Linked DNA regions of Homo sapiens. The protein of the gene in region 6 interacts with the protein of the main gene of each other region in a biochemical or structural test. Each region holds a gene or a part of one and is shown on either strand. Other genes may lie near its edges.

What was found.
Region 1: the proteins of PDZD2 (region 6) and PDLIM4 interact in a test that uses a peptide from one of them, tested with the Homo sapiens proteins (one large-scale study listed by IntAct).
Region 2: the proteins of PDZD2 (region 6) and ADRA1D interact in a test that uses a peptide from one of them, tested with the Homo sapiens proteins (one large-scale study listed by IntAct).
Region 3: the proteins of PDZD2 (region 6) and TRMT13 interact in a test that uses a peptide from one of them, tested with the Homo sapiens proteins (one large-scale study listed by IntAct).
Region 4: the proteins of PDZD2 (region 6) and TMEM215 interact in a test that uses a peptide from one of them, tested with the Homo sapiens proteins (one large-scale study listed by IntAct).
Region 5: the proteins of PDZD2 (region 6) and CBY2 interact in a test that uses a peptide from one of them, tested with the Homo sapiens proteins (one large-scale study listed by IntAct).
Region 7: the proteins of PDZD2 (region 6) and CGN interact in a test that uses a peptide from one of them, tested with the Homo sapiens proteins (one large-scale study listed by IntAct).

The regions. Positions count from the first base shown.
Region 1 is NC_000005.10:132,267,176-132,271,059, forward strand, and holds part of PDLIM4 (PDZ and LIM domain protein 4), read left to right. Parts: intron 1-3,739; coding exon 3,740-3,884.
Region 2 is NC_000020.11:4,238,742-4,242,996, forward strand, and holds part of ADRA1D (alpha-1D adrenergic receptor), read right to left. Parts: intron 1-4,255. UniProt on the Homo sapiens protein: This alpha-adrenergic receptor mediates its effect through the influx of extracellular calcium.
Region 3 is NC_000001.11:100,139,387-100,143,641, reverse strand, and holds part of TRMT13 (tRNA:m(4)X modification enzyme TRM13 homolog), read right to left. Parts: intron 3,994-4,255; coding exon 3,931-3,993; intron 3,461-3,930; coding exon 3,391-3,460; intron 3,235-3,390; coding exon 3,128-3,234; intron 2,791-3,127; coding exon 2,623-2,790; intron 506-2,622; coding exon 433-505; exon of another isoform or gene 428-432; intron 1-427. UniProt on the Homo sapiens protein: tRNA methylase which 2'-O-methylates cytidine(4) in tRNA(Pro) and tRNA(Gly)(GCC), and adenosine(4) in tRNA(His).
Region 4 is NC_000009.12:32,786,555-32,790,119, reverse strand, and holds the end of TMEM215 (transmembrane protein 215), read right to left. Parts: 3' UTR 919-3,565; downstream 1-918.
Region 5 is NC_000013.11:45,708,472-45,712,726, reverse strand, and holds part of CBY2 (protein chibby homolog 2), read right to left. Parts: intron 1-4,255.
Region 6 is NC_000005.10:31,645,243-31,649,497, reverse strand, and holds part of PDZD2 (PDZ domain-containing protein 2), read right to left. Parts: intron 1-4,255.
Region 7 is NC_000001.11:151,531,399-151,535,653, reverse strand, and holds part of CGN (cingulin), read right to left. Parts: intron 3,253-4,255; coding exon 3,082-3,252; intron 1,680-3,081; coding exon 1,518-1,679; intron 613-1,517; coding exon 523-612; intron 55-522; coding exon 1-54. UniProt on the Homo sapiens protein: Probably plays a role in the formation and regulation of the tight junction (TJ) paracellular permeability barrier.

The DNA.
Region 1 (3,884 bases), about 100 Mb from region 6:
AGAGCCATCTCTGGGCCACAGAGTTTGGGCAAGGAGACTGGGATGGTCTGTGATGGAGCCAGAACCATGGGACCCAGCATGTGGGACCATTGCCTCCTGGGCCTGCCTTTGTCCACCCTCTCAACATGAAAGAAAAGGGGCCAAGGCAGGGAGAGGCTTCACTGAACCAGAGGGAAGGATGTGCCCCAGCTTCTCCCTCACTATCTACCCCAATCCCATCTTGCTCTATTCCCTACCCTGCCTGGCTGGCATCCCTGGAGCCAGATGCTTACCACCTTCCAGGCAGTGCCCATTCTGGCAGGGGAAAGGCACTTAGAAGTTCTGGGCTAGGGGAAGCCAGGGGCCAAAGGAGCCCAGAGTAGTCACATGACTCAGACAAGGAGTCAAGGAGTGCTTCCTGGAGGAAGGGGTATTGAAGCCAAGACCTGAAGGGCTAGGAATGGTAAGGCAGGCAAAGGGGTATAGGGAGAGGAAGTGTGGCCCAGAGGTGAGGTCTTGCACCACAAGTTCAGAGAAAAGAAAGGTCCAGGGGAAGGGAGGACAAGATGGAAGGAGTGAGAGGACAGAGGTGAGAGATGAGGTGGTGGAGCAGGGCCACAGAAAGGCTCTTGGGCTTCTCTATCCTGGACCTCAGCTGTTCTTACAGGGATTCATGGCCACATCTGTGTCTCAGAAACTTGCTCTGATGGCCCCATGGACCCCAGACCTTAGGGGTAGGGGTACATGTTGCCATAGACAAATGAGCCAGGTTTGCCACAGGCCAGGCAGAGGGGAGCAGCAGGGTGTGGGCCTCAAGCTCATGCATGAGGCCCAGCCTCCCTCAGAGGTAGCAGTGCCAGGATGACGTGGTGGGGAGGGGGTTCAGTCTTCCAGGAGAGGCTCAGGGCCGGTGGGCCTGGGAGGCTGGCGACTGTAGAGCAGCTCCCCCTGCCCCCACACTTGTTCTCATTGACTCCCTTGAAGACCAGGCTGCCAGTGGCTCAGACTGGAGAAGGAGGGAGTTTCCACAAGCACCAGGGCAGCCCCTCAGCTGCTGCCCCACTTTTGTACTTAAAAGGTCATGGGCTCCATGGGTGGTGACAAAAACACCCCCACCCCACCCCTGCAGGGCTGAGTCCTTGCTAACACAGACACAGGGCCCATTGTCCCCATGCTGCTCCCACCCTCTGCCTGAGTGGGGGTGTTGGGGAGGGGGTGGAGCTAGCTGGAGCCATCGAGGAGGAGGAAACCACAGTTGGCCCTAGGACCAGCACAAGGTGCCCTGGCACACATCCCCGAGTGGGATGGGACAGGGCCAGCTGGAACTTCAGGCCCACCTTCCCTGTGGGGCGATAGGAGAACCTCCTTCTCTCAGGCCTCTTGTGGGAACACAGGAGGCACTTGGCCTAGCCCAGGGTGGAGGAAGGATAGTAACTTATTACTATCCTTCTGGGTTAGTAGGGTTTTCTGGAAGGAGTGGCAATTATGCTCAGAACCAGGTGATGGGGAGAAGCAAGTCAGGTGGAGCAGGCAGTCCTTGCACACTCAGCCTGTCCTCCCCAGACCAGCAGAGAGCTAGAACTGAGCCTCTAGGAGATGGCACCTGCTCATCTGGACTCAGCGCCTGCCTCCATCCAAGTTGAGTGTCCCAAAGCAGGTAGTTACCCCCATCCTGCTGAAAAATCCACTGAGGCTTCAACAACCAAGTGGGCAGCAGGCTGGTTCTCAGAGCAGAGGAGCATATGGTACGAGGTGTACCACCCACAGAGGGGGAAAATACAGGACTGGGGGCCCAGGAATTCCCCTGACAGCCATTCATCCAACAAGTATGTGCTTTATGCCAGGCACTATGCAATTGTCTTATTTCATCTCCACAAGGAACCTGATGTGGAAAGCATCACATTCCCCAGCTCATAGATAAAGAAACAGGTTCAGAGAGGTGAAGAGACTTGCCCAGTTAGGGGATAACCCTGGGACTCAAACTAAAACTGAGGTAGCCATGTGTGTCCTAGCCACAGAGTTCAGGCCTAGAGAGGCAGCTGCATGGGTGACCGTGGGAGGGGCAGTGGCTCTGATGGCCCTGCAGTGGACCCCTGCACCCTGCTGGGTAGGGGTGAGTGAGGGCCTCCTTCCTCCCAGTCCCAGTCCCTCCAACTCCTCCCTCCCACCAAAGCCTCTGCCCGGAGGCTGAGCCCCACCCCCACTGGCCACAGCCCATCTGGTCCCCATTAGAGGTCAGCCCTGCCTGCATGCTTGCCCGACAGACACACGTGTGAGAGCGCTCACGTTTCTCAGGGGCTTTTGTTGGGCCTGATGTGGATAGGGGTTTTCCTGTTGCTGCTGCATTGATGGGGGCCACCTGGGCAGCAAGACCCTCCTGTTTGTCTGTTGGGGTGGGGGAAATGGAGGGGGGCCCACCCAACTGCTGGTCTGCCTGTTCCCCAGGTTCCCACCCTACAAAAAGCAGGGGGTACTCAGGGCAGAACCCCACAGGCTCAACTATGCCTCAGAGCTTCCTAAGTCCAAACCAGGGTTCTTCCCACTACGATAGGCATCCTTTCCTGTCCACACTGGGCTCTCTGACCACACTGTAGAGCAGAGGAGGTTTACACGTCACTCCCAGGCTGAGGCTAAGACCTACCCCATGGCCTGGCCTCAGACATCATCCTAAAATCAGGCTGCTCTGGCTACTAGCCCAGTCTCAGCTATGGAGGCCACTATGGCCATTCCCAGGGTGACCAGTGCTGGCTCCAAGTCTCTGTAACCATGCGCATGTAGTTAGTTGTATGTAGGGAGATTGGTAGGTGCATATGTGTTGTCCTTATGTGTGTGTGTGTGTCTTTAAAGCATAATTGTGAGAGTGTGCATGCCCCTGTTTACATTGCTGTGGGGTGCTTGTGTGCACTTGCAAGCTGGGAACTGCACAGCTCTGGACTCTGCAGGGACAAAGATCCCCAGTCCCCACTCAGACCCCCACACACAGAGATACTGCCCTCTCCTCATGGCTGAGGGGGCAGGTTCAGGACACTCCCACCCAAAATGTTTCAGCCATGGGCACCAGGCTGGCTGTGGGGTAGTGGGGCAGAGAGCCTTGAGCCCTAGCCTGGTCTCTGCCCCTCATCTGCTGTGCCTGCAGAAGGCTACTCATTGTGGCCTGGAAAGCAGGAAATGGGGGACAGGTGTAGGCCCAGAAGGGGCTGACCTCACAATGGCACTCTTGAGCCTCAGCCTGCCCAAAGGGCCTTGGACACATGACAGTCAAGGACCCTTTCTGACTGTAGGACAGGAGTTACGTTTTTTGAGTTCCCAGCCATGGGCCTACCCAGTACCCACCACAGTTCAGGAAGGTGAGAAGGCTTGGCACCAGGGCCACCTCTGCCAGGAGGCCACATACTCTGCTGTAGCCACACAGACCTTAGGCTTCTTGGGATAGGCCTGCCCCAGTACTGTCCCTTCCTGAGTGGTGGTGGGCAGAACCACTGCAGGGCTCACAAGCCCAGGCTGAGTCTCAGCTGCCCAGGTTTTTGTGTCTGACTTTCCAAGGACGTTTCTCATTTCTGCAGGGGCATAACCAGTCCCCAGGCCCAGCCCTTCCCCAGAAATCCCTTCCCTGGCTGAGCACCACAGGCCAGAGATGCCGAAGCAGAGGAAGCCAACTGACATCCACCACCTGGCACAGCACAGCAGGGTGGGGGTGGGGTGAACAAGGAATGGCTGGAGGCCAGAGGGTCTCCCAGTGCCTTAGGCCTCTCTCTAATAGGACGGCAGCCCAACAACCAGCAGGCGGCCCTCAGGCACCGGGACTGGGCCAGAAGATGGCAGACCAAGCCTGGGATCTCCATATGGACAACCCCCTCGCTTTCCAGTCCCTCACAATGGCAGCAGCGAGGCCACCCTGCCAGCCC
Region 2 (4,255 bases), on a different chromosome or scaffold from region 6:
AGATGCTATAAATCAGCCTCCATCCCAGAGCCAATTGTGTAACATTTACCAGGACATCATAGGGAGGAATGGTCTAATTCAGGATCTGGGGCTCACAGAAATAGGAGGAAGTGAGGGAATTAAAGACGGCAAGAGAGGATGAAGCAACAGATCATCCTCTGGGACTAGCTGACTAAGGAAGGGATGTGTAATCGACTGGGAGACAAGGTGAGGGCAGGGAGGTGAAGGCTTGGTCAAGGCTGGGGTTGATGAGCAGGTGTAATGGGAACCAAGCAGGGAGGACAGGAGCAGATGGACTCAGGAGGAAGAGCTTCACTGAGGATTCTGGGGGAGGGAGAGTAAAATGGGCACATGGACCAGGGCATAGGCCTTGGAGGAGGGGAGGAGGGGAAGGTCATTGTAGTCTCAAGGCCAGAGTGTCATCATGGGTCAGCCTCAGTACAGTGGAGTCACACTGATGACCAGGGTAGGGGTGGGAGTGAGGAAAAAACAGTGTGATTCTGATGCCCAGATCTTTAATGAATGGAGCAGGGTGATCAACAGTTCCTCAGATGTTTGGGACAAACATATCAGCAGGAGCTGGGCAGAGGACAAGATCTTCAGGGGAGGGGAAGGAGGAATATATGTCCAAGGACAGAAGTCCCCATCAGTGTTGTGTTTTTCTTCTACTGAAAATAAAATGTACTTCCTAGATCTGTCCATTGAATCAGTGACCAACTCAGTATCAATGAACAGCTCAGTCATCTTCCATTGAAACAGACTAGGGCTCTTTAGGGAAATGGCTAATTCCAGGTCTAGGGCAGAAAAAATGCAAGCTGAGCCTGAAGCATCTTATCAGATCAGAAAGCAAAGAAGAGCTCAAGATGCTCCAGGTTCTGCCAAAGATCTCAGAAGCCAACTGGAAGGAGTACCCACTGGCCAAGCCCAAAACAATGATGTCTGTGATGTGTTGGAACAGCAAGGATGTCTAAAAATAATGACATTACCATGGTACTCAAACAGCCTCAGTGGTCACGTCTGGAAAGAATGCTAGAGAACTGACTCTTCCTCTGATAAATAAAGAGGAATATTGAACATCTTCCCTGCCTTTGCTGTACAGATTCTATTTAACCAAACAGCTAGTGGTGAAATCATTTTAGAATGCTAGTGAATAAATGAAGGAGGTATGATAGGATTAGAATATCCCCACTTCAAGCCCCAGTGATATAATGGGTCCAGGCCATGGTCAATGGCTGCCAAAACCAGCAGGTGAAAGGCCGATGGGTCACTTTGTAATGGACAGAGCAGGCTGACAGCACATGAATTCTGGTCAATCTTGACACCACAGAAAAGAAGAATTCTTTCCAGGCCAAATCTGCACCCAGGAAGTACAGGGAACAGAGGGACACATTAAATGGCACTGTGGAGATGCAAACTCCAAACTACAGGATACACCTGGGGACAATCTGGTGTCTTCACTAAATAAATGGAAAGAAAAAAAAGCAGTGGAGGCTTACCGAGTAAAGAAACCTAATAGGCAAATCGACCATATGCAACGTGTGCTCCTTCTGTGGATTCTGCTTCAAACAAACCAACCAAAAATTTACGAGGCAGCCAGCAACATTTCAACACTAAGTAGATATTTGATGATATTAAATGATTTTATGTGTTATAATGGATTGTGGGCTTTTTTTTTTTTTTTTTACAGTTATTATCTTCTAGAACTATATATTGAAGGATTTACAGATGAAGGGATACTGTATCTGGATGTTCTTCAAAATAATCTACAGTGGCCGGGTGCAGTGGTTCATGCCTGTAATCCCAGCACTTTGGGAGGCCGAGGTGGGTGGATCACCTGAGGTCAGGAGTTTGATATCAGCCTGACCAACATGGTGAAACCCCGTCTCTACTAAAAATACAAAAATTAGCTGGGCATGGTGGTGCACACCTATAATCCCAGCTTCTTGGGAGGTTGAGGCACGAGAATCACTTGAACCCGGGAGGTGGAGGTTGCGGTAAGCTGAGATTGCGCCACTGCACTCCAGACTGGGAGACAGAGAGACTCCATCTCAAAAAACAAACAAACAAAAATCCAAAAGAATCTACAGTGATGGGACAGTGGGTGAGGATGGAAAGAATCTAGGTTAGCTTTGGGGTGAAGCTGGGTCACAGGTACACAGGGGTTCATTATACTAACAGGGTTCTCTCTATCAATGTATGTGTTTGAAACTTTCCATGTTAAAAACATGAAAAAAACCCAACCCTAGCTCATTGCTTATTCATAGTAATTACTCAATAAATATTAACTGTCCTGTTAAAGATTTTTTTTTTAGGCCACAAAAATGGGGACTCACCCCCAACCCACAACAAGTAAAGAGAGTTGACTTTAAATAGAGGGCTGTTATGCTAAGCGAAATAAGCCAGTCACAGAAGGAGAAATACTGCATGATTCCACTTACATGGGGGTCTCTAAAATACTCAAATGCGTAGACTCAAAGAGTGGGATGGTGGTTTCCAGGGAGAAAGGGCGCTAGGAAATTGGGAATTGCTAATCAATGGGCATAAAGTTTCAGTTTGGCAAGATAGATGAGTTCTAGGGGTCTGATGTGCAACAGTATCACATGATATGTATCCATAGTTAATGATATGTAGTTAATGATATGATATTTACACTTAAAAGTGTGTTAAGAGGGTAGAGCTCATGCTATATGCTCTTGCCACAATAAAAGAAAATTAAAATAATAAATAAATGGAGGGCTGTGCTTTGCCACCCAGACCCTTGGTGTGGCAGGATGGGAATAGAACATGGGTTCTACCGTTTCCTTCTTCTGCACACATTTACTGAGCACCTATTATGTTCCAGGTGCCACAAAGCACAGGTAGGAGATGTAATGCCAGCCCTTTCTTCAGGCTTTTGGGCCGGGAGACAATGATGCCATTACTGAAGACCTAGCACAAAGCATCCCTTGCCTCTCCCCTTCATCCACAGACCCCTGCACAACCTCAGGCAGCCTGTGGAGATGAGTCCTTTAGCACCTGGCCGACTCTCAGACATATGCATAATCCACTCTCCGCACGGGGCCACCAAAGTATGCCTTCCAGCCTGGACACCAATTACTAAGCAGGGCTCACAGCCTCCCCCCTGCCTCCTCCTGCCTTCTCTCTCACTGTAACAAAGGCATAACATGTAGACAGTCAAATTTAGAAAGCGTGTGTATCTGAAGCACACAGCACAGCCTGATGGCTCTGCATATGCATGCACCAATGTCATCACTACCCAGGTCAAGGTATGGAACTGTCCCAGCCCTTCAGAAAGTTTTCTAGCATTCTCTTCCAGTTAGTACACTCACTGCACACACACAGATGGGTAACCGCTATCCTGGATTTTATCACCATTGATAAGTTTCCCCTGTTTTTGAACTTCATCTACACAGAATCAAAAGGTGTGTACACCTTGAGTTTCAGACCTGGCTTATTTTGCGCAGTATAACATCCATGAAATTCATCCATGTGTGCATCAGTAGTTTGCTATTTTTCCTTGTACCGTGGTCCAGTCTATGGATACATGGTTTATTTATCCATTCTCCTGCAGATGGCATCTGGCCTCATCTCTTGACCCCTCTTCTCATAGGCTACACGTTTTACGTCTCCCAAACCACAGAGCAACCCAGCAATACTGCTACTCCTGTGCCTACGTGTGTGTAGTTCCCTTTGCCCTCACACTTCATGATGCATATCTGAATATTGACAGTTACAGTGCATCGTGATAAAAGTACATGCAGAGTGTTTCAGAAGCACATGGGACATCTAAGTCTGGGGGTGGTCAGCGACACAGGCACTATCACAGAGCACAGACTCACAAGATAGGAGAGAGGCTCAGGTGTGGCTCACAGATGGCTGGAGTGGGACATTGGCTGGGCTGTCCTGGGACTTCTGATATCAGAGCCTCTGCCCAGCTTGTATGCCTTGAGGTGCATTTGAGGGGGGCCCTGGGCTCTGAGTCTCCGGGCTGCTTTGAGTGGATGGCATTTGGAAGGTGGAGGTCAGTGATGCTCGGTGATCTGCCCAACAAGAGAGAGCTGGGATCGAAAGCCTGGGAGCTGTGAGTGGTCACTAGGAGTGACAGGGGTGGGGCTGTTGTGTGTGTGTGTGTGTTTGTGTGTGTATGTAGGTCTCGGCAGACAGTCCACCTCTGGGCGTGGCTGGGGGACACTTACCAGGCAGCCCAAACCCAAACGCAGTGAGATGCTGCCGCCATGAAAACACGCAGGAGGGA
Region 3 (4,255 bases), on a different chromosome or scaffold from region 6:
CTTCTTTTGTACAATTTAAAATTCTAGGAAGTATCTTTTACACATTAGCTAGGCAGAGAAATATCTCATTTTCTTTCATGGTTTAGGTAAAGTCACGTTAACTGCAGGCAGAAGGCTAGTTTATAGTTTGAACAGACTCAAAATTAATTTAAACAGGACAAAGAAACAACAGAAGTACATATTATAAAACTTTTAAACTCTTCCCTAATATAACACTTCATTTCCACTTGATACTGAAAATTTTTAAAATTCTCAACCTTAATTCAATTTACATCTATTTAAAAACATTATATAAAACATTCTATATTAACAATGAATTGATTTGACTGTTTTCCCTGAAGCACAGTTCTGCATGATTGGATTTCTAAGCAACCTCAGAGTTTAAAACAGTTATGATTTATTTGTAGACCAATGGAAAGTTACACAACTTACTCAAACACAAGTGTTGAATATCAATTTGAAGTCTTTCAAACACTGAATTTTTCTTTCTGTGTTTTCCATCCACCTGCACAAACAGAACATTATTGTAATAATCACTTCTTACATTTAAAAAAGCTTTATGAAAATAAAAAGATTTTTATTGGTTTTCAAAATTCAGAGCAACAGAACATATTTAAAAATTAAGATTGTACATTCTTTGATGAGAACTTCAAAATATCACACTTTTTAAAAAAGATTTGAAAATGTTTATCAATTATTACATAGACATTATTTCCTTTAACCCTAAAAATTCCCAATTCACTGACAAAGGAACTGAAGTTCACAGATCTTAAGTGATTTATCTAAGATTGTCTACTAGCTCCTTTATCTTTGTCACTCCTGGTGTACTATTTTTGGTTCGCTCCTCTTCTTGCTCTCCTGAAAGATCACAACCATTCTAATCTATACCTATGTGCCCACGACCGGCTGATCTACATTTGTGGCTCAGGCCTCTCCAATGGGCATCAGACACATACTCAATTGTGAACTAGAAAGCTCTACTTCACCAGCAAACTGGACACATTCAGAACTGAACTCATTATTTCTGTCTCCAAAACCATCCTTCCTCTTGTGCCTCCTTCATTCCTTATCTCAGGAAAGAACACCACTTAGTCACCTAAGCCATAAAAATCCTACCGAGAATTACTCCTTATCTCTCATATTCAATTACTAACAAATCACCAACTCTTGTGGCTTCCAACATCTTAATATTTCTCATACTCTTGCCCTCCTCTCCATCCCAATGCAATAGCTTTAGCTCTGGCCTCTTTCTTACTTGGATTGTTGGACAAAAATTATCTTTATTATTAATCTCTCTAAGTATCAGACTCTTCTAATATAGTTTTAATGGTGCTGCTAGGATAAACTTTGAAAAATTTCCTTCTACTTTACCAACTCTTACATATTATTTCAATCTCATCTCAACTGTCACTTCTGCAAAAACTTCTATGACCCACACTAGACTGAGGTTGGTGCTCTATCTTCATGCTCCCATAGGATTGGGTACTTACCACTATCAAAACACACTTAGCATACTGAACACAAATATTTATATGTCTACTCCACTAGACGTAAGCTTCCTCAAAGCCAAGAACTAAATCTTTTTTCTATTGTATCCCCACCAGACAGCAGCATAGTCAAACTCCTTCCTTAGCATAAAATATGAGACCTTCTATAGGCTAGCCATCCTCTCCAGTCCCATCATTGCTGAACTCTACTTTGCACCATGTACTCCCATTATACAGGAATGTTTCCATATTTTCCTGTTATTTCAGGTATTTGGTTACACTGTTCTTGCTTCCTAGAATGCTTCTCAAACTCTCTAACAAACACCAATTCACCTTTCAAGATTTAGTTCAAGCATCACCTTTTCTACATAGTCATTCTCCATCTCTTCCCTGCAATAGAACTTGTCACTCCCTTCTTTGAAACCATGCTGTACTCTGTGCAGACCTTTCTCGTATTTTAACACTTCACTACAATCATTTATGTATTTGCCTGGGTCTCTTTTCTAAATATAAGTAATAAAGTGGCTGGGCACAGTGGCTCACACTTGTAATTCCAGCACTTTGGAAGGGTAAGGTGGGAGGATGGCTTAAGCTCAGGAGTTCGACACCAGCCTGGGCGACAAAGTGAGACCCTGTCTCCACAAAAAATTTTAAAAAATTACCTGGGCATGGTGGCGTGGGACTATAGTCCCAGCTACTCATGAGGCTGAAATGGGAGGATTATATGAGCCCAGGAGGTCAAGGCTGCAGTGAGCCACGATCCTGCCACTGTACTTCAGCCTGGGTGGGGCCTGGCAGTATGCTCAAAAATTGTTTAATGAATGAAGGGCAAGTGGCAAAGATAGGAGTAGAGCCCAAGACTTTTAACTCCTAGCTTGAGCTTGGCTCTTTCTATATATTTTCCTGTCTCTGCAAATAATTTTAAGAATTCAGATCAATGGACTATCAAAACTTAGATTAAAAAATTCACCTTCAGTTTGAGTTATCAATACAATTAGAACTAATAAAAAGCTACAACAAACAGATAAAGAAAATTCCTTTCCTTTCTTTTAAGAAATGTTTCTATCACTTTTTTCCTGAATACAAAAAATGAAAACAAGTTTGGTTACTAACACAGAGCAATGGTTTCACTTACCTTGAATCTTGTGGTCACCTTTTCCACTAGGATGAAGTGAACTTTTTCAGCATCTTTTAAGGCAATATCAACCCAATGAGATAATTTTCCCTTTCCCGCTCCAAACTCAACAAAGCATCTTCTTGGACCAAGTAACTTTAAATTTTCAATGTTACCTAAAATAGAAGCCTGCAAACTTCACAAGATTATTTTATAAACTAGAGTAAACACATTTGGTTCAAATGGGAAAACAGCAAGGTAATTTCTGCATAAGGCAGTATGCTTACATTGATAATTTGTATTTGACTTAAAATTTTTCTCTCTTGCCTTTAAATATTTAATATACGGTACTCAGAATCACATCCATGCCCTCAATTTTTTGTATATGTTTCTATATATTTTTGAAATGGAAATATTTGGTACCCTCAAAGGTAAACAAAATAAAATCTTATTAATAATTACATTTAAAACAGTTTTAACAAATGAACAAAGGCCATGTTTAGTAGTTACTATAGCCTAAACATACCTGCTGTTTCAGGTGCTTGGTTGCAGAATCGCCATTTTTAGGGTCATTAAGTGCATCGTGTAATGCTGGATGGGACATAATATGATCTTTAAGTGTAGAATTCAAGCCTGTGCCAAATATAAGCACAACAGCTTAAGCAGCCAAACATGTAATTGTAGGATTCTGAACAATAGTAGTAACATATTTTAAACCAGAATGGTATCAACTCATATACCACCTAATTACTCTAAAATAATTGAACTTGCAACTTTAGGCAGTCTTACCTTCACTTGCTTTTCTCAATTTCTTAATTAACTTTTCCAACTGCTCTTCAGATAGAGAAGAAATTGGAACCTATATACAAAAATAAAACTAAATAATGTAGCCAAAAATTGCTTTAAAGTAGCATAACAGAGACTGAGTAGAGGTTTACCAACTGGGCAAATCCCATGACAGCTTAGGCTCTTCTCTCTATCAAGCCTTTTCCCTAAGCTGCCATCAGAATTGTCCAACTGCTAAATTTCTACTCCGTCTTTGCTGTGCTACTTTAATTTTCCTAACTTCCTCAAGGTCAAGAACAAGTCTAGGCTCAGAAGGGTTCAAGAATCAAAGGGGATTCAGGGCCATATTGTAGCTTCTTTTGTTATGGGGCATGAGCTGGTCTGGGTCTAGGAACTAACCATCACTAACAATATTAAGTCTACAGGAAAATGCATTCTAAATTAAAAACAGACTTGAGACAAAAATTAGAACATGCCTTATTCACATCATGAAGAGAGCTTATAAATATCTTTTAAAATTAAATATTAAGTCAATGTACTTACTAATTGTTCAGGTATTTCTGTTTCATCTCTTAAGCCTGCATTAATATCTTGAATATAGAAATCCTTAACAAAAACAAAACCATAAAAGAACTGTTAATAATGTGTAGCTCACAAAAATTAAACTAAAATACTGATTCTTCCCTTTATCCCCTGCTCTGTACCTGCCATCCTCCCTTCCTCCATTCATTTCTTCATGAAATCACTATTGAATATTTACTCTAGGCCCTAGTTTGCTTTAGGTATTGGGCACTCCACCACAGTAGATAACAAAAGTGACAAAAATATGTGTTCGTGGATCTTATATTCTAGTGAGGTGATTATCTGA
Region 4 (3,565 bases), on a different chromosome or scaffold from region 6:
AATCACTTATATAGAAAATAATGGCCAGGTGCAGTGCTAGGATCACGCCTGTAATCCTAGCATTTTGAGAGGCTGAGGCTGGTGGATCACCTGAGGTCAGGAGTTCGAGACCAGCCTGGCCAACATGGTGAAACCTCGTCTCTACTAAAAATACAAAAATTTGCCGTTTGGTGGCAGGCGCCTGTAATCCCAGCTACTGGGGAGACTGAGGCAGAAGAATCGTTTGAAACCTAGGAGATGGAGGTTGCAGTGAGCCAAGATCATGCCACTGCACTCCAGCCTGGATGACAGAACAAGGCCCTGTCTCAAAAAAAGAAAGAAAGAAAGAAAGAAAATAATTGCCCATACTTTTCATGTTCAGATACAGGCAGGTGATTTTCAAAAGCCTAGTTTTTTCAAACAAATGTGGTCTGGCCTCCTACTGAAGAGTTGTCTTATGTACAATAGTTCATTACCATGAAAAATAAGAAAGTGACTAATTGCAAAATTATCTTTTATGTTCAACTTTCTAAAGATAGATTTGTCAAAGAGCAGCACAGGAGATTTTTAATAGCTTTATGTACTGTTTTGTAATCGGTTCATTTTGTAACTCTGTACCTTATTAGGGATAAAGCATGCAAAGCTTTGTACTATCACCGAGAATACCAAGTCTGCAGGCTGTAATCTGGGGTCAGGGAAGGAATAAAGGGAAAAATAAAAAAAGAATCCCTAGTAAGGGTCAGTCCCAGGAACAACTTGCCAAAGACTGGCTATCTAACATCAGTGCCTGCCTGTTTGTGTATCTGGGCAGCATCATGTACACATTTCTTTTGGTTGGGTGCCCATAGAGTGAGGACCCTGCGGTAGGTCATGAGAAATCAAAGTCATGGTCTCAGACTCAGTGGTGTCTACATGATTTTATGTGAACTGGACAAGAGGTTGAATGGAATCTAGTCTTTTATTAAGATATTTGGGCAAACCAAGCATTTGTCCCCATTTCCATCCTCAGTTTAGTTTTTCCCAGTAGGAAACTGAAACACAGAAAACTCAAGGGCAGAGTCTATCAGATTCCTGAAATTCCAGTTCATTTGTAAGTCACTGATAGGCGACAATACATATACATATGAAATACATCTATTATAAAATATATGATGAGGTACTTTAAGAAAATGCTTTTGGCATATTACAAAGTCATTATTATTGTTTACATCTATTTATCATTTTGCTTGTTGAACACGATGCTCTTGAAGACTGACACCACTGTAATCTAATTGTGAGAAACACACCACTGGTATCTTAGCTGGGGAAATGTTCCATCTTACTCCTAAACATACTAGTTCTGGTCCTGATGGGAGGATCTTTTGGAAGAAGCATCGTTTTGTTTCCCACCCTGGGTCTTATATCCACAAGAGTGAAGGGAAGACCCACACAACAATATGGAGAGTTCCATTCATTTACACATTTCTGCCTCCTCTCTCTCATCCACAAGGAGATACCTGTTCAATAGTAAAGTTCCTCTCTATTGGCATATAACAAATAATATAGCAGTGTAACCAGCAATAGGAAAAAAACATACAAAATCATCCATAAAACTTAGTATCTTGCCAGCAATAAGGAATGGCATGATAAATTATGGAACATCACTAAAATGGCATATTACACAATCGTTCATTGATAATTAGAAATACTACATAGAAACATGGAAACATGCATGGAATATAATTCAAAGAGAAAAGAAAAACACACTATTATAATATGTATGCTGCATTTGCATGTGGAGGAAGCCTGGAAGATGATATACCAAAATAGAAACACAGTAGTTGCTTTAGGATAGTGAGGTTGTGGGTTTTCAGAAACCTTTTCTTTACTGTGATAAAATACTAGTATTAATAACAGTGAATTCACCAAATAAATGATGTTATGGGTACAGAGGGAGGCTATTAATAAATAAGTAGAGCTTGGACATTGCAAAAGAGAAAAAACATTTAACAGAATGAATCTTCCTTTCCTACATTTGTCATCTCAGTGGATATTAAGATCCATAGTATTGAAAACATTTTCAAAGCAGCTGCTTAGCAGGGTTTGGAAGAGAGCCTGAACTTAACTGTATCTGGATTTTGTTTGCCAAGATGACTGCAACAGAAAATAAATCTTAAAACAGATGTCTAATATGCTCTCGTTTGAGTATCATGTCTGAATTCTCACTTAAGAATCAAGAAGCAGTTTGGAAAAACAACCCATGTGCACAATAAGTAGGCATACAGAGCAAGAGAAATTCAGTAGAAAAATTTTGAAAATAAAATGCCTATTCAGAATCAAGTCGCAATGTCTACTTGGATTAACAGCAAAATAAAGTAATGTCTACTTAAATTTATATCTGTCTAGGAGCTCTTGAAGGCTACCAGGAACAATCCTCATGTCTATTATATTGATAAGAACAATTTGCTAAAACTGTGTAACTCATCAGAATGAGTTGCTCTCTTTTCCTCTAAAGGGCTGAGACACTTTTTTTCTCTTTCTCTTCTACCTCTGTTCAAAAAAATGTGGCTTTTCCCCTTTTTTTGTGTATATATATTTTTTGACTTTGGAAGTTTAACTCTGAATAGTACTTACAAGTATTGATTTGGGGCACCAGGTTACCTTGTTGCATATAGAAAGGAGTTGGTTAATATGTTAGGAGAAATTCACACACACAATCATACATTTTATTCTCACTGGTCAAAGTTAAAACCTCTCACACCAACATTTGCAAACCTTTATTTTAGCACAGGAAAATATTTCCTCAAATGCATACTTAAATACCTTAAGTATCTTAAGTAGGTAATGGGAGAAGAAACATGAAATAGGTTTTCTTCTGAAGTAGAACTTGAAAACAAGATAAAATACCTTATATCTCTAAACTAGTAGTTGACCCTCAATTTGGAAAGAGACAGAATGATATAAAGGAGTTTTAAATGGTTCCAAGAAATCAGAAAAGTAACTTTTCCAACCCCCAAACCATACCTGACACTGCAAGCATCTTCTTTCAGAAAATTGCAGCATTATTGTCTAAGATTTGCTGAGTCTCTGTGAACATCTCTCTGTCTCACTATCTCCTCATCTCTAACGGTGGCAAACTTCTTAAAGGAAGTTTTCATTCCTAAAGAGTTATTGCATAGTTCTCACCATTATAAAAATATGATTCTCTGTTTTCAAAATGCATTACAATTATTAAAAGTTACTGTGATTTTAGGAAACTATCTCTCCCCATCCCAAATCCAAATGTCAATCACATTTAGTGCAAGGTTGTGTATTAGATTACTTTGAGTTATACCAACATTTTAAGTTTTCTCCTCAAAAATATTTTACTCTGATTATGTTCATTTTATTCTCAGGAATGCATTGTGTTGAATAATCTGCTTTCATACATCTACAAAATTCTTTTTTGAGTAGTAGCTGTGCAATGTATGTCACATAATTATCATAAATTTCATAACTTTGGCATGCATTTTGCTGTAACTCATTTCCTGGCAATATATAAAATGCCTTTGACATAACACCATAGAATATTTACACTGAAAATGAATGATAGAAATAATCAAGTGTA
Region 5 (4,255 bases), on a different chromosome or scaffold from region 6:
ACTTGACTTGGAATGGTACAGAAGCCATTTTTAACAGCAAAATCACCAACAAAATGCACAAGAAGGCAAAACAAAAAAAGTGGCACTAGATAGACTGCGCAATGGACACTATTTTCTAGCCTGAGAGCTGAAACAAGAAGGCTCCTTGGCTGGGGACTCAACTTCACACAACTCAAATTTTCACCTCTCCGTGCATGTCTGAGAATTACCATAAAAGTGCTACAAGTATTGATTTGGTGGATACACATTTTAGCAAGTAGGCAAATTCACAAATATGGAATCCGTGAATAATAAGAAACAGTTATATATTATGGTGGTCAAAGGCATTCATTTTAGAGTCAACCAAATATTTTGAGTCTTTGCCTCACTACTTACCAATTAACAAGAATTTGAGCAAGTTATTTGAGCTTTAATTTCCACATTTTCAAATTGGGATAATTGCATTTACTCCTTGCCTCATAGAGACATTTTTAGGATTAAAAAAGGCAATGTACAAAAGCACTAAGCATGGGCTCTGGCACATTCTGTCACCCTAAAGGAGGAACAAACACTGTTCTCAAGGGCCACCACCCACAGATGTGTACTCACACTTAGCATGAGCAGAGAAGCAGCATGAATCATCCAAACAGCCACCCAAATTGCTGTGTCCAAAATGGCGGTGCCGTTGGTCAGCCCAGCCTTCTCTCTTGCCCATCTGGGCATATCCTTCACTCTTAGCCACCCTTGAGTCTTTTCTGCTAGCAGCCCCTTAAACATTCACCCCAGCTTCTAATGCAATGCTAGACTCAAAGCAGAGTCTAACTAATAATTTTGGAAAGAAAGAAAACCCATCCCAGACATATCACTGAGCAATGAGCGTTCAACATGTGGTGATAAAGCCAGTCAAGGACCCTGAGGAATTCATGATGGTGGCCATAGACCTCAAGACCACAGCATAAAACGGGGCTCAGATCCACAGAGCTTAACTCCAATGAGCTGGTAGCTTTCACACATCCCAGTACAGAAAAATAACTCCAGTGAGTTTTAAATGCAGATTTCTGAGCCTCCCATTGTGAGTCTGATTTACTCAGACTGGGGTGTGGCCCAGGAATCTGCATTTCTAACCAGCTCCTTCAGGTGTTCCTGGCTGCAGGTGGTTAGGACAGATCTAAGTCAAGTAGAATAGGCAATTTGCTTAAGTGAGGGTTGCACCAGCATTACAGACTGAAAGGTCACAAGAATTCTCATCCTGATTTTGTCACTGATGGGCACTTTGAAACCAGACAGCTCTCTTATCCTCTTTGAGACCCAGACTTTTCACGAGTGAAAAAGAGGGAGTCGGGCTCCATGATCTTAAAGGCACCTTCCAACATTGAAAAGTCAATGAAATATACCTGTAAAATAGAAATAATATGTGCCCTGCTTAGTTCACAACACTGTTGTGAGGATTAAATGAGATAATGAATGCAAAAATATTTTTAAAACCAACAGTGCCAAAGAACCATAAGGTATTATTATCAAGAAGAGTAGATTTCACTAATGCAAGAATTATAAGATGTATTCAAAAAGAAGTGAGCAAGTAGAATGCACACTAGAGAAGAGGTGATGATTGCAGCCATGAATTTAAGTAAACAGATCATGATAGCTACTTCCAAATACACCAAAAGTACTTCATCCAAGTATATCAAAATGCTCTCCAGATATCAATTCCTTATGTCTTAGGTTACTTTCACAACCGTACAGATAGAGAAAATAAAAAACAAGTCAGGCTAACTACATTATATATATATGTGTGGGTGTATGTAGAGAGAGAAACACAATTTGCATGGTATATAAAGTTGGTTAGAATTCTTTAAAACTTAAAGAGCTAGATAAATAGAAGATGCAGTTCTATGCCATTAACTTTGCAATAAGCACATGTCATTAACTTTGTAAGGATACGCTCAATCTTCCAGATAGCAAGGGTATGAGGGCATTCTGCAAGCGGAATTTTATTTAGTTTAAAAAAGTTCAGCCTCCCTGGTTTTCACATTTCTCAACTGGGAAAGCAGATTGGCTCCTGTAGCTGTCTGTGATCAGAATGAACCTCACTGTGGATAACCTAGACCATTTTCTGATAGGTTTAAGGTCCTGAGATCCAGGATTTCTGGGAAGACTGGTCAAAGCCAAAGACGTGAATGTTTTGTTGTGGTGGTGGTTTTTGTTGTTGTTGTTGTTGTTGTTTTGAGACGGAGTCTCACTCTGTCGCCCAGGCTGGAGTGCAGTGGTACGATTTCGGCTCACTGCAACCTCCGCCTTCCGGGTTCAAGCAATTCTCCTGCCTCAGCCTCCAGAGTAGCTGGGACTACAGGCGCGTGCCACCACGCCTGGCTAATTTTTTGTATTTTAGTAGAGACGGGGTTTCATCATGTTGGCCAGGATGGTCTCGATCTCTTGACCTTGTGATCTGCCTGCCTCTGCCTCCCAAAGTGCTAGGATTATAGGCATGAGCCACCGTGCCTGGCAGGAGTGAATCTTAAGAGGTTCTCTCCATCCTTGCACTAGAACTAATACTTTATCTCAGCAGGATTTGACTCCAGAAGCTATCAACATGGAAAAATGTGGTTTTAGTCAACATGTGCATCCCAGTCCTGAGAAGAAAATGGAAGAAGGAAACAAATATTAAGCCTCAATTTCATGCTAGGCCGTGAGCTGAGCATTCTACCTACTAAATTCATTTTATCCTCACCACACTGACATGTAAGATATTATTACTATTCTTATTTTACAGATGGAGAAACTGAAACTCAGAGATGTTAAATAACCAGCACTAGCTCCTTCACTAAGACACAAACCCACTTCTGGCTCCCTGACCTTCTATGTGTGAAGTACACACATGGGAAACCACCATGGATTTATCAAAAGTCCTGCAGTACTTTGGGGAACATGATATCTTTTCCTTCAATTTATATGATGGAAAATTTCAAACATACACAAAAAGAGAGAGAATAGTCTAATAAATGTCCATGTACCCATCACTCAGCTTCACCAAGTATCAAATCAAGGCCACACTTGTTTCACCAGGCCTCAACCTGATTCCACAACCACTCCCCTACCGCTAGGTTATCTTAAAGCAAAGTGACATTGTGTCATCTTATCCACAAATATATAAATATGTGCCTCTTTAACAGAATCACAATACCATTATCACCCTTTAACATTTAACAATTATCCCTCAATATCTGCGAATACTGAGCCCATGTTCAAATTTCCCCAATTCTCATTTCTTTTTAACGATCGTTTTGTTTCAGCCAGAGAGACAATCTTCTTGATCCAACTAAGGGTCCAAAGAGGAATCATGGATGCTTTCTACCTGTCCATATTTGGCCATGATGGCTTTTAACCCATGGCATTCAGCTGCCTGTGTTCTACATCCACCTTCCACACTGGGTACCCAAGGAACATTCTGTCATCCCCTCAACAGAAATACACTAAACAAAACCTTAACATATGGTGGATCCCTAGCCACGGACAACCTGGGTGTTTGTGCCCTGGTCTTTATTCACACATTCAGGTGATCTTGCTCATATCCACTCACTTTCTGACCTTAGTTTCCACTTCTGTAAAATGAAGGGTAAGAGTCATTATCTCTAAGTGCTCTCTTGGCCTAACTGTCTCTGGTCCAGTGGATTTGCATTTGTAAATTGGCACCACTATGGCCCCAGCAGCCCTCTTTTACCAACCTAGTTGGCATCTCGTCCTCTCCCCTAAATGGCCAACTCTTCCCAAGCAGGCTTTGTGCCTTCTCTTGTTCCATGCCCACAGCACCTAATCCAGGAAATGCTGATGGACAAATAAGTCCCCTTTACTTTCTCAACAGGAAACCAAATTCTTCTCCAATGACTGAGTCCTATTATCTTTCCTCCTATCCTCAGACAGGACCAAGAAAGTGGTCAAGTGCAGTGTTTCCTCATGGCTTAATTTCTTAGAACATTTAAAAATTTTTCAGTAGTCATATACTTATTTTAATGAGTAATGGGAAAACATACCTATATTAAATATACAGGCATTTTTAGACATGACAAGGATCATGATTGAACTTCAGGAAAACATTGATCCAGAACAAACTTGTTTTTTCCTGTAGCATTTCTCTGATTCTGATCAGAGCTAGCTGGATTTAATCCTTAAAGGAAAGCTCTTGGCCTTGTGAAAATTCTTCACCCTAGTCATGTACCCACTCAGGATGTTATTGCACCAATTTTTCCCCTACATTAGTGTCAGTGAATCAACTAACATT
Region 6 (4,255 bases):
TTTTATTTCAAACAGGAGTCATGTGATAGAGTACCTGGGGGTGGTCCTGTTTCCTGTTAGATCATATGTTCTTGTGAAGATCTGGGGGAAGATGTTTCCAAGCAGAAAAAGAGCTCTGATATGGGACGGAACTTGGTGTGTTCCAAAACTGAAAGAAGTACAGCATGTCAGGCATGGAGTGAGGGCAATGAGTGCTAAGAGAAGGAGTCATAGGAGAGGTGGACTGGGGCAAGGAGCCTGAATCACACTGAAATGGCAACGAGAAATGTCCAGTTTTAAGCCAGGGAGTGATACGACTTGTGTTTTTAAACGACCCCTCTGGCCGGGCACAGTGGCTCATGTCTGTAATCCCAGAACTCTGGGAGGCCAAAGCGGGTGGACCGCTTGGGCCCAGGAGTTTGAGACCAGCCTGCACGACACAGTGAGACCCCATCTCTTAAAAAAACAAACAAAAAAACCCCTCTGGGTTGGGGGGCAGGAGGGATGAATAGGAGTCAGAGCACAGAAGATTTTTAGGCCAGTGAAACTACTCATATAATATAATGGTGGATACATGACATTACACATTATCCAAACCCATGACATTATACATTTATCCAAACCCATAGAATGTAAGAGTGAACCCCTAAGGTAAACTATGGACTCGAGGGATAACGATGTTCCAACACAGGTTCATCGACTGTAACAAATGAACTATGTGGTGAAGGATGTTGATGAGAGTGGAGGCTCTGCATGTGTAGGGGCAAGAGGTATACAGGAAATCTCTGTAATTTCTTCTCAATTTGGCTGTGAACCTAAAATTGCTATATTAAAAAAAAAAAAGTCTTAAAAAAATAAAAGACCCCTCTGGCTGCTCGGAGGAAAAGGACTGGGGTCAAGGGTGTCCTCAGGTGGCCCGGTTAGAAGATGACTGCAGCATGGGTCCAGGGGTGAGATGGCAGTGATTTTAACAAGGGCGGCTGCTGTGGAGGCGGGAGAACAAGGTGGAGGCTGGAGGTGGGGCCAACAGGACTTATTCCTGGATTTGGATACAGAGTGTCGGGAAAAGAGAATGAAGAGTGGTTTCTAGTTTTGGGAATGAGCCTTTGGGTGGATGGTGGTGCCATTTACTGAGACGGGAGGAGGAGAAGGAAAGAACTAGCTTGAAAGAGACATATCAAGGATTGCATTTTGTTGTGTTAGGTTAGAGATCCCTATAACGCCCCCACTGGAATGGTAAGGGGGCAGTGGGGCACATGAGTCTGGAACACAGCAGAGAAATCAAGGCTATGGACATAAATTTGGAAGGCAGAAGTGCATAAATGGTAGGCAATGCCTCGAGATAGTTGAGCTCTCCCTAGAATAGCCAAAAAAGAGGATCCAAGGACGAGTCCCAGGTCAAGAGCATAAAACAATGAATATCAGTTGTTGTTACTATTTTCAGTACATTGAGAAGGAGAATGTTGGCCAACTACTGTTACCAGCATCTTTTCATCCATCTATTTCCCCAGCCATGCTGCCCTCCATTCATACCGTGAACAATCACGGAGCACATTTACTAAAAGGCAAAAGAGAGTAGTGGTCCATATGCAAGCTCTAGAGCCAGGCTGCTGTGTGTAAATTCCAATTCTACCAACTCCTGGCTGTGCAACCTCAGAGAATTCCGTAACCACAATGTATCACCATTTTTCCATCACAAAAGGGGTTGTACTGTGTTGAATAGTAGCTCCCCAAAAGATATACCCACATCCCAAAACCTGCAAATGTGTCCTCATTTGGCAAAAGTGTCTCTGCAGATGTAATTAAATTAAAAATCTCAAGTTGGAATCATCCTGAATTATTTGGGTAGCCCTAACTCCAATGACAAATGTCCTTATAAATGAGACACACAAAGTAGAGACATGCAGACAAGAGAGAAGACACAGACACACAGACAAAGCAACGTGAAGACAAAGGCATAGACTGGGCTGAAGCAGTGCAAGGAATGTCCACAGCTCCCAGAAGCTGCAAGAGGCAGGGAAGGATTCTCCCCTAGAGCTTCCAGAAGGAGCACGGCCCTGTCAACACCTTGATTTCAGACTTCGGACCTGTGAAGAGGATACTGTGAGAGGATAAATTTCAGTTGTTTTAAGACAACAAGTTTGTGCTAATTTCTGACGGCAGCCCCAGGAAATGAATATGGGGTAATAACAGTATGTACCTCATCAGATTATGAGAACTGAATGAGCTGTATGTGGCAAGTGTCTAGAACAGTGCCTGCCAAATAGTGAACATTCAAATAATTTTAATTTTTACCCATGTACTAGGCATTGTACTGGATCCTGAAGAGTACAGGGGAAGAGGCAGTCTTCAGAGATCCTCAAGATAAAGACGGAGCCTGGGAAGCTGAGCAGGTGAGGGATCAGAAGGCGGGAAGTGTGCTCAGGGGCCGTGTGCATCTCCCAGGTGCCAAAAATAGTGGACTGCAGCTCCACAGCTGCCACCAATAAAGAAATCAATAAGCCTGACATCTGCTTAGGTTTTTAAAGATGAGCAGTAAGTCCAGAGAGGAGTTAATGCAATTCTTTCCAGTACCTTCCTCTCCTTGTGCCATCTCACTGCCTGCTCTCTCTTGGGAATCCACGCTGATGGGGACACTCGGAGCACATTTTCTGGAGACAGCTGTCCCTTCTTTCGGCCTAATGATACTGGGAATTAAGGTGGCCAGGGCGGGGTAGGAGTGGAGAGTGGGCAGTGGCAAACTGTGGAGGAAAGCTATGCCAATTTTGTATGCTGAGTGGTTTTGTAATAATATTTGCATGGCTGCTTTAGCCTTGGAAGTGAATTCTCTTCATCAGGAGACCCATATAGCACAATCTAGTTTTACCCAAATCTCCATAAAACACACTGTGCCAGAAAGAGGGTGTTGGGCGGGTGGTGGGGGGTGTTCAACTGAAAACACAGCTGAAATCAGACATTTTATAAGTGTCCATTGGCCAACACACAAAAATGTAGAGTTTATTGACATCTTGCTTTATTAAACAGAAAAAGAAAAAGAAACCTTCGTGCTCTTGGAGAGAGTGTATGATTCCATTTGATCACCTGCAAGCAAACATAAGCAGTGTCAGGAGCTACTTAGTGTTCATGACGTGGAGGGGTCAGGTTCCTGAAGACATTTGTGGTGGCTCAGTCCCTGGAATTCCTCAGGGGTAAGGGGCATTACTAGGTGTTCAAACTTGTACCCACCAACCCAAGATATTATGGCTACCCCAAAATACACTTGCCTCTCCAGTCTCCAGAAACAGAGTCTTCTGGAATACTGGAATTACAGTAACATCCCAGGACGTGTAAACAGGACAAGCCAGGTTCACCTTAGACAGGCATCGGAAACATGCTGGCCTTTGGTGAAAGGGACAAAAGAGTTGGTGTTTATTTTCTTCCGCCTAGGTATCCTGAGATCTCCCTAGGAGTGACAGTAGTGAGAAGGCCCCCCCGCAGTGCAAAGCTCCCTGACACCCTCTCTCCTCCCACCAGCTGCCTGGGGATGCCCGGAGGCCTCCCATGTAAGGCAGCCCAGTTCCCCACCCCCTTCCCCCTACTGAGTACACTGAGATCCAAACTTACCATCTCTCCCACCCTCCTCCCAGTACAACTCCCACTGCCTGAGCTGGCAGGTCCCAGCCAGGGAATTGACTTTGGGGTAGCCACAGCACAAAGCGTGCCCCTGCTCACGGTAGGAATACTAATTCTACACTATATGAGTGCTGCCTTTATTTTTAGCCAAGCAGGATGATGGCTGTCCTGAGGCCAGGACAACAGGGTCTGTTGTGTTAACTTGGATGATAAAGTCTAGGGCTTGTAAAGCCAAGTACTAGAGGTGTCCAAGTGTTGGTAAAAATGAGACCAGCCGGGCACAGCGGCTCACGCCTGTAATCTCAGCACCTCGGGAGGCCAAGGCAGGCGGATCACAAGATCAAGAGATCAAGACCATCCTGGCCAACATGGTGAAACCACGTCTCTACTAAAAATACAAAAATTAGCTGGGTGTGGTGGCACGCACCTGTAGTCCCAGCTACTCAGGAGGCTGAGGGAGGAGAATCACTTGAACCTGGGAGGCAGAGGTTGCAGTGAGCCAAGATCGCGCCACTGCACTCCAGGCAGGGCGACAGAGCAAGACTCCGTCTCAAAAAAAAAAAAAAAAAAAAAGAGACCAAGAGTAACCCCTCTGAAATCCATTTCGACTCCTGCTAAAACACCTCAAAGAACCAGTCTGGGGCATCACTGTGTTAAGGGCCAA
Region 7 (4,255 bases), on a different chromosome or scaffold from region 6:
CAGGTCCTGCCGAGCAGACCTTTCCTGCATGAGCTCTGTCCTCAGCTGATCCACCTAGTGGGGATGGGTGAGAGGACCAGACTTGGGGAGGGCTAAGGATGAACCAGCAAGCTGAACAAAGTGAGGCTGAGTCATGGGAGGATGGTCTCTGAACCCTGAATCCAAAAATTCCCAGGCAACTAAAAAATCACAGCCTATTCAAATGGGAGGGGCCAGAGAATGCAAACAGAGCCTCCTTCGTCCCTCCAGGAACTAGTATCCCTTGTAAACCAAAGAAGCCCCAATTCAGGTCAGAGAACAGCCCAGGCCACCAGGATCCCTTCCTCCATGCAAATCATTGGCTTCTTTCCACCCAAGGAAACTGGCCAACCTTTCCCAAAGCAGACAAAACCCTGAAGGAGACCCAGCCACGCACAGATTCGGCAGCCAGATGATGAAAGATGGGAGGGTAGAGTTGTTTTTGAGAGAACCAAGAGGTGATGCAGTCAGGGGTAAACAGAGATGAGGGGTGGGGGCGGTTACCTGGTCCCGGCCACGATTCACCCGATCTGTTAGCAGCTCCACGGTGTTCTTCTCCTCATCTAACTCTGTTTCCAGCCGTGAGACTTTTTCCTAGGACAGAAGAACAAGTAATTCTGTCCCAAATGCTGGACACCAGAATGCCAAACTCAGACCAGGAGCCTCTCAAACTCCAGCATTAACAGACTTTTCTCTCTTGCACATCCCAGTAACCTTTTGGTACTTGCCTGGACCCAGAGCCACTATGGAGCCAGCGCCCTCTACTGACCAGATGTGGCATCATGGGCAGGTCGGGGCCATGCTCTGGTGACGGCCCTTTGACAGAAAGGCAAACCCCAGAATCTACTCTTCATTGGAAAACCTTATTTCTCTAATGGGAAAAGAGAGAGAAACCCAAGTACCTGGGCCAAGGCTGAGGTGAAGAGACTCAGAAACTGAGGTACTGGAGGCAGTACCACGTAGAGGCTAAGAGTATGTACATGGGACCAGACTGTCCAGTCTGAAAATCAGATTTACCACTTCCTGGCAGTAGACCATGGACAAGTTCATCTCTCTGTGCCTCAGTTTCCTTCATCTGTAAAATGGAGAAAACAAGACTACCTACCCCACAGAGTTATTCTGAGGATTAAGTCTTAAGTGCCTATCACACAGCACAATATGTTTGCTGCTGCTATTATTATTATCAAATATAGCAAACTGAAGAATACTGTTCACTCTAAAGGGGAAACCCACTGCTCAGCTCCAGCCAACTGTTGCCATGCAGACTCAGGACAAGACACTCAGTATTACCATATCTGCCAAATACAAAAGAAACTAGAAATCCAAATTTTTAGGTGACCTCTATAAATTTCTAAACATTGGCAATTGATTCAAAGTTGTTGAAAATACTGCAGCCAAACAAAACTCATCAACTGTGGGCTGTCGGTTTTGACCGCTAGTACAGAAAGAGGCTTGGAAGTCCCACCCTTTTTCCACAGGTCACACCTCAGTGCCCTCACCTCGAGACCCTTCAGCTGCCGGGCCCTGTCGTCCTGGGAACGCTTCTTGTTCTCTGCCTCTTGCTCCAGCCCCTGCAGTCGCTGGGCCAGTAGCTCTTTGTCCAGCCGGGCTGTGTCCCGCTCAGCCTGGGATGCCTGCAGGGCCTGCCGCAGCCTCTGGATCTGGGCAGGGGGTAAAAATGCCACAGCTCAGTGTAGTGAGAAGGTGAGGGTTGAGGGGCAGGAGCAGTCCAGCCCAGTGGGCAGAAACATTTCATCACTGTCACTCTTTAGAATTACCAGTGGCATGATGACAATAAAAAGCAAACTGACTTTTCATCCATTTTCTTTTTTTTTCATTTTTTAGATGGAGTCTCGCTCTGTCGCCCAGGCTGGAGTACAGTGGTGCGATCTCAGCTTACAGCAATCTCCACCTCCCAGGTTCAAGTGATTCTCCTGCCTCGGCCTCCCGAGTAGCTGGGACTACAGGCATGTGCCACCACGCTTGGCTAATTTTTTGTATTTTTAGTAGAGACGGGGTTTCACCGTGTTAGCCAAGATGGTCTCAATCTCCTGACCTCGTGATCTGCCCGCCACAGCCTCCCAAAGTGCTGGGATTACAGGCAAGAGCCACTGCACCTGCCCTCATTAATTTCCTTTATTGTTTTTGTTTTTGTTTTTTGAGATGGAGTCTTGCTCTGTCGCCCAGGCTGGAATGCAGTGGCACAATCGCGGCTCACTGCAACCTCCACCTCCCAGGTTCAAGCAATTCTCCTGCCTCAGCCTCCTGAGTAGCTGGGACTACAGGCATGCACCACCACGCTCAGCTAATTTTTGTATTTTTAGTAAAGACAAGGTTTCACCATGTTGGCCAGGCTGGTCTTGAACACCTGACCTCATGATCTGCCCGCCTCAGCCTCCCAACGTGCTGGGATTACAGGCGTGAGCCACCGTCCTCAGCTTCTTTATTGTTTTTAAAGTCTCTACACAACTTGGAATCACCTGAGGAGTTTTTTTAAATTCTGATCCTGGATCCCATCCCCAGAGATGATGACTGAAGTGGTATGGGATACAGCCTGGGTGTGGGGATTTTTAAAAATCTCCTCAGGTGGCTCTAAGCTACAGAATTTGAAAATCACTGCTCTACAGACAATATATTCCTCCACCCTGCAAGTCATTAGACCTAAACCTGGGCCCCAGGGACCCTTGGCCACAGGTTCAGTTAAGAGGCAAGGACCGGGCTGGGCGCAGTGGCTCATGCCTGTTATCCTAGCATTTTGGGAGGCCGAGGAGGGCGGATCACGAGGTCAGGAGATTGAGACCATCCTGGCTAACACGGTGAAACCCCGTCTCTACTGAAAATATAAAAAATTAGCCAGGCGTGGTGGCAGGCACCTGTAGTCCCAGCTACTTGTGAGGCTGAGGCAGGAGAATGGTGTGAACCCCGGAGGCAGAGCTTGCAGTGAGCCAAGATCGCGCCACTGAACTCCAGCCTGGGCGACAGAGTGAGACTCTGTCTCGGACAAAAAAAAAAAAAAAAAAAAAGAGGCAAGGACCTTCAAACCCAAGGATATTAGACTTCTACCTCATCCTGAAGTCGGCTCAGTCCTCCAGAGGTCTTCTCAGCCTCACTGGCCCAATCCTTGGCCTGGCGCTGGGCATCTGCCACCTCCCGCCGGGCCTTTTCCTTATAATCCTCCAGCTGGGCCTGGAGCTGCTGCAGGGCTTGCTTAGAGTCCTCCCCGATCTTCTCCAACTGAAACACAGAGAAAAGGGTCTTCAGCACTGTACATAAATGACCCTCTCCAGGCCCAGACTCCCAAGACTCTCCCCTAAGGGTCTCCTTCCTGACAAGGCAGCCCTCTCTTGCTCTTTCCTGGGCCTAGGTTCCTAGTATAGCTAATAGTTATATACAGATGTCTGGGTTCAAATCCTGGCTCTACCACTTACTGGTGACCATGTGCAAGTTACTTATCTCTCTGGGTCTCAGTCCCCCATCTGTAAAATGGGATTAAAAATAGTAACTATATCACAAGGTGTTGTGAGAATTACATTAGTTAATTATGTGAAGTTCTGTACTTACAACAGTGCCTGATACAAAGTAAGCCTTAAATGACCATTTCAGCAAACCCAAGGTGCCAATGATTATACGGCGTACCACTAAGAAAAATATGCCAATTAAACTATAACATACCATAAGGTATAAGACACAACTCTATTTCAGAAATGATAAAATGTGCATTTTTCATTGACAAATGATAAGATGTGCATTTTTCATTGACAAATGATAAGATGTGCATTTTTCATTGACAAATGATAAGATGTGCATTTTTCATTGACAAATGATAAAATGTGCACTTTAGAATTGATGTAACATATTACGTGTTTGCTCTTGCTTTACAAAAAGATTGGGAGGAGAACCTTAGCAGCAAAAGCAATTTATTTCCTTTTCTTTTTTCTTTCTTTTCTCCTTCCCCTCACCCAAATTTAAAATTCTACCAATGAAGATTTTTTTTTTTGACAGGCTCTTGCTGTAGCGCAGTGGGGCAGTCACAGCTCACTGCAGCCTCAACCTCCTGGGCTCAAGCAATCCTACGTCAGCCTTCCGAGTAGCTGGGAATACAGATGTCTGGGTTCAAATCCTGGCTCTACCACTAATTAGCAACCATAGGCAAGTTACTTATCTTCTCTGGGTCTCAATTCCCCATCTATAAAGAGAAACTGAGGAACAAGCCACCACAGCAGGCTAATTTTATTTT